Linked DNA regions of Homo sapiens: region 2 is linked to region 1. The links come from fine-mapping of genetic effects on gene expression. Tissue or cell type: tibial nerve. Region 1 holds a variant in brackets; the other region holds the start of a gene. All regions are shown on one strand. Distances are between the middles of the regions.

Region 1 (2,676 bases):
GGAAAAGTAGCTGCACATCCCACAGGAAGTGAGTGAGCTGACTTCAGTCAGTTCATGCTGTAGCAACAATGTTTCCTGACCAGGATGCAACGAGCTAACAGTCAACATGAGATCTTACAACTGATCTTAATAATTTGAGATAAGAAGAAGCTTTCAGGGGCTGGGCGCGGTGGCTCACGCCTGTAATCCCAGCACTTTGGGAGGCCAAGGTGGGTGGATCACAATGTCAGGAGATCGAGACCATCCTGGCTTACACGGTGAAACCCCGTCTCTACTAAAATTACAAAAAAAAAAAAAAATTAGCCAGGTGTGCTGGCGGGCACCTGTAGTCCCAGCTACTCGGGAGGCTGAGGCAGGAGAATTGCTTGAACCTGGGAGGCGGAGCTTGCAGTGAGCCGAGATCACGCCACTGCACTCCAGTCTGGGCGACAGAGCCAGACTCCATCTCAAAAAAAAAAAAAAAAAAAAAAGAAGTAGAACCTTCCAAAATTACCATTTATTTGGAAAATAAAATATACACTTCTAAAAGCCGTGAGTTAAAGAATAACACATGATAGAAATGAGAAATGCTTAGAACCAGATTACAGTGGGTGCACTGCCTATTATGTATGAGTACATGAAACTCTCCACGTACATATGGAATATTGCAAAGTGCAACTAACTCACTCCAGAAATTAGACAGATTTAAAAGAAGGAAACAATGGAAATTAATGAGCCAAGCCTTCAACGTAAGTGACAAAAAGAACAAGAGGCTAAAGCAATAAAAGCAGGACAAAGATACAAATATGAGCAGAAACTCAGGAAATAGAAAATAAAAGGCAAATCGGGTGGATCAAAGACAAATGTTGGCTGATTATTAGAAAGATGAAGGTGACAGACGCCACTGGCAAAAACAGAGAGAGAGAGAACAGAGTCGGTATTAGGAATGAAAAGGAGAATCATCAAACACAAGCAGAAGTTTAAAGATAAACATATCAGGAACCAGTCCGTTTGAAATCTTTTCCAAAACAGGTAAGATTTTAAATGGATACATTCCCAGAAAATTGTGGAAAATGAATACATTCGCAGAAGATCATGACAAAAAATTGATTCAAGAAGGAAGAGATGACCTAATAATTCTACAACCATTAAAGACATTTAACCATTGATTTAAAATCTCCTGCAAGAAAACTCAGGTTGACAGGTGTGGGAGACCAGAACGCGCCTCCTGAAAAGCAGGCCTGTGGGGCTGAGGGCCTCTGCGAGGAGCAACGGAGGTAGAGCTCCCGGTCCCCCCTCGACACAGGACACGGGCTTACAAAGACGAAGGAATCCTGCCCCCCTCTACTAGGGAGAACAAAGGTTAACCACTGAAGACAGCTTCAGACCCTCATCACCTGCACCTGAAGATAGTTCCAGAATAATCTGCACCAACAAGCTTTATGAAGGAGCCTTTATCTGACATTTATTCGCTTTTCCTCAAGTTCCTGCCTACAGAGACTCCAAGTCTTTCTTTTTTGCCCAGAACTTCTCTGAAAATCTATCGCTCTTTGTTAAAGATGCTCTACAAGCTGGAATTCAAAGCCGCCTCGTTGAGAGTGACTCATGCCCTAGGCATCTCCCACACATACGTGAAACAC[A/T]CATGTTAATAAGCCTCTGCTTGTTTTTCTTCTATTCATCTCTGTTTTGTAAGAGGGATCTGTTCCGACTAAGAACTCACAGGGTTCTTATTTTCCCCTGCCCAGGGTTGCACAGATGTGTTCTACCAAACTTTCAAGGAACAGAACGTTCCAGTCTTTTACAAACTCTTCCTGAGAGTAGAAAGGAGGGAGCACTCCCTGAATCATTGTGAAGCCATTACAATCTTTAAAACAAACCAGACAAGAATAGTCCAAGAAAAATCATGTTTTAGTACAATCTCACTCCCAAACAAAGACGTACAAACCCTAAACAAATCATTAGCACACTGAACTCACGGCGTCTATTTTTAAAAGGTGATGACACTCATGACTGTGTTGGGATTTGCTGGGATTATCCCAGGAATGTGAGTGATTTAGACCGAGAAGATCGATAACTTTCATTCACCGCATGAACGGATTAAAGGGGAAGACAGGCTCATCCCAGTGGATGCCGAAAATCACTCAACACAACTCAAAACACACTCAGGAAAAAAGGAAGAGACTTTTCAAACTTAGAAATGGGAAACTTACCAAAAACCTACAGCAGACCAAAAATGGGGAAACACCGGTGCATCCCCTTTAAAAATCCAGAGCCCAGGCTGGGCACGGTGGCTCACGTCTGTAATCCCAGCACTTTGGGAGGCCGGGGTGGGCGGATCACGAGGTCAGGAGATGGAGACCATCTTGGCTAACACGGTGAAACCCCGTCTCTACTAAAAATACAAAAAATTAGCCAGGTGTGGTGGCGGGCGCCTGTAATCCCAGCTACTCAGGAGGCTGAGGCAGGAGAATGGCGTGAACACGGGAGGTGGAGCTTGCAGTGAGCCGAGATTGCACCACTGCCCTCTAGCCTGGGTGACAGAGTGAGACTCCGTCAAAAAAAAAAAAAAAATCCAGAGCCAAGGTGGGAATACTCTCCCCTCAGCGGCACGGCAGAGATCCAGCCGAGGTTTAACGCAGGGCAGCCTCACACCTTGTCATTCACTGGAACAGCAGTGAAGAGAACCAGGATTGGAAA
Region 2 (2,676 bases), 56 kb after region 1:
TTTAAGATGACAAATGTGGTTCTCCTCCTCCATCTACAGGCATGTCCCGGTTCACGGCGGCTGTGTCCCCGCGGCCTCAGACCCAGGGTCCAGCCCATGCTCTGGCCCCTCCGGCGGCCAGGATCAGCATCGCTGCCCCGGGGCCCGCGCCGAGCCGGCTGCTCCTCCGTGCTCTGCGCTCCTGGGCCCGCACCAGCCCCCTCCCCTGGAGCCCCCTTCGTCCCTGCGAGGGTTCCCTGCACGCCCCGCGCTGAGACCCAGCCTGGCCCGGGCCGGAGCCCTCCGCGACGTCAGGATGCGCCTGGCCTCACGCCGCCTCCCCTCCGTCTTCTCTGGGCCGCAGCCGCTCCTCGTGAGTGAGGTCGCGGCCAGGGAGCCGGGTGGACGCGCCGGGAAGCTGCACGGTCCACGCTCCGTCTGCGCGGAGAGCCGGGCGCGCGTGGCCCGGCCCCTGCAGGCGCGACTGCCGCCGCCCCGGTGGGCTCCCCTCCCCCGCACGCCCGGCACGCGGCTGGACGACTGCGGCCGCGCGGGGGCTGGAACATCCCCTCAGAGCCGCAAGAGAGCGCACCCGCCGCCGGCGCCCGGAACCCAGGGCCCCTTTAAGAGGCGCCGCCGGAGCAGGGCCGTGACGTCATAGAAGTGCGAAGGGCGGAGTCTGTGCGCAGCCGCGGCGCGGGGGGCGGGGCGGGGGCGCGGCGTTCTTGCGGGCCTGACTGACAGGAGCGCCCTCCGGGAGCGACCAGTACTAGGCCGCCGGTCGCAAGAGCGCCCCGCGTAGGCCCCGCCCCGAAAGGAGGCCCCGCCCCGGGGCAGGCCCCGCCTCCACAAGGACACCAAGTCCCGCACAAGCCACGCCCCCCGCAGGCCCCGCCCCACTCTGTTCAGATCTAGGCCCAACTCAGGCTCCGCACCTCAAGGCTCCGCCCCCAGCAAGGCTCCGCCCCAGGCCCGGCTCCACCCCGCACAGGCCCCACCCCGAGTCAGGCTCCGCCCCGCCCAGGCCCCGCCCCGGGCTCGGCTCCGCGGGGCGGGACTTGCCCTCAGCCTGAGTCGGCGGCGGCTGCGGGAACTTTCCCAGCGGATCTAATGGCTGCGCGCGGGCCGCTGTGAGGCGCGGCGGCGAGCGACGGGCGCGGGGCCGCGGAGCAGCGAGCGAGCGAGCGAGCGCGAGGCCGGAGCCCCGGCCAGGCCCGGCCGACCCGCCGAGCCCGCGATGCGCCCCGGGGCCGCCCCCCGGCGCAGCTGACGCCCCGCGGCCCCGCGAAGACCCCGGCCGGCCGGTCCCGGAGGAAGCGGCCGCCGCCGCCGCCGCCCAGCCCAGCGCCCGCGCCGCCCGGGCACCATGGCGGGGAAGGCGGCCGCCCCGGGCACCGCGGTGCTGCTGGTCACGGCCAACGTGGGCTCGCTCTTCGACGACGTAAGTCCCCCGTGCCGGCGGCAGGCCCCAAGCCCGGAACCCCCGACCCTGACCCCGGGGTCCCGAACTGCAAGCCTTGGACCCTGGACCGTGAACCTCCAGACCCAGAGGCCCCAGACTCTGATCCCTGTACCCGGGACCCCAGACTCCTGTCCTGATTCCCAAGTCTGGGAGCCCAGACCCCTGTCTTGATCCCCAAGCCCGAGACCTGAAGACCTGGGCCCTGAATCCCCGAACCCCATCCTCCAGACTCCAGCAGCTGACCGTTGACCCTGGGACCCTGCCTCTGAACTCCTGTCTGCAAATCCTGACCTCGAAACTCCAATATTAAAACCCTGTCAGAACCCCTGTTAACAGTTCCTGGAACCCAAACCCCAGAAACCGGGTCTGTGCGCACCAAACCCAGCCCCAGCCCTGATTTCCGAATCCTCAGAACCCTGGCCCTGGAATGCCCATCCCCAACCCTGGCCCTGAACCCCAGGTCCATGGTCACTGGAACCACAAATCCTGACTGCAGAACTCTGGTTACAGAACCTGCTCTCAAACGTCTGTCTCTGGTCCCTGAGCCCTGGACCCCAAACCCTGAAACATAACCACAAACCCTAACCCAGGAACTTCTGACACAGGGCTGTGGCCCCAACCTCCTGTCCCTGTTCCCCAATCACTGAATTCTAGCCCTAGAATCCCAGCCTTCATACTGTGGCCCTTTGCCTCTAAAGCCAATCTAGCCTGACTCTGAACCCTGAATTTCAACCTCAGGCCCCAGCTTATGGCCCTGAACACTTGTCCTTGACCCCTGAACCTGGAACCCTGGTTCCAGAATCAGGCCCCAAACCCAATTCTGGACCCTGCCCCTAACTCTGGTTCCTAGATCCCATCCTTGGCCCCTTCCTCCAACAAGCTCCTGCCCCTGAATCCTGAATCCTGAATCCTGGTCTTAAAGCCTGGGCCTTGAGCCTGCAGAATTCCCAAACCCTAACCCTTGACTCCCACCCCTGGCCCCTGTCCTCTGAGCCTAGGCCCTCCACTCTGGCTGTCAGCCCCAGCTCCTGGATGCCTGGGTGCCGGCCTCACTGTCTGTCTGTCCCTGCAGGGCCAGAGGGTAGGGTGCCCCCATTTAACCCTGCCACTTAGTATCTCTTTAGTTCGTAAATAAGGGAAGTCTGTAAAGCACTGTAGGACTTTATATTTCTTGTTTATTGAAGAAAAAGATGCTGAGAAGCTCTTCAGGGCCAGAAAGGGGATGCTGACTGCCT

Direction of the effects. Positions count from the first base shown, and alleles are read on the strand shown. Sizes are in standard deviations (SD) of each study's normalised expression.
For the expression in tibial nerve of the gene that starts at base 1,036 in region 2, allele T in region 1 goes with a higher level than allele A (small effect, 0.39 SD a copy in GTEx).

What was found. PIP is the estimated chance that this variant, and not a neighbour inherited with it, causes the effect.
Region 2: it holds the start of INPP5A, and the variant in region 1 is fine-mapped to the expression of INPP5A in tibial nerve (GTEx, PIP above 0.99). The same link has a PIP of 0.9 or more in fibroblasts and nucleus accumbens.

Annotation. Positions count from the first base shown.
Region 1 is chr10:132,480,627-132,483,302 of GRCh38, forward strand. No RefSeq gene overlaps it. Among named protein-coding and RNA genes, the nearest start is that of LINC02870, 37 kb to the left of the region's middle. RefSeq lists an enhancer at 1-345. The variant A/T (reference allele first, on the strand shown) is at 1,620.
Region 2 is chr10:132,536,752-132,539,427 of GRCh38, forward strand. INPP5A (inositol polyphosphate-5-phosphatase A) reads left to right here and starts at 1,036. Exons shown (of 16, transcript NM_005539.5): 1 at 1,036-1,420. The coding sequence starts at 1,346. It overlaps LOC107984282 (a long non-coding RNA gene), which reads right to left and starts at 172. Exons shown (of 4, transcript NR_158224.1): 1 at 1-172. RefSeq lists a silencer at 57-1,156 and an enhancer at 1,937-1,986.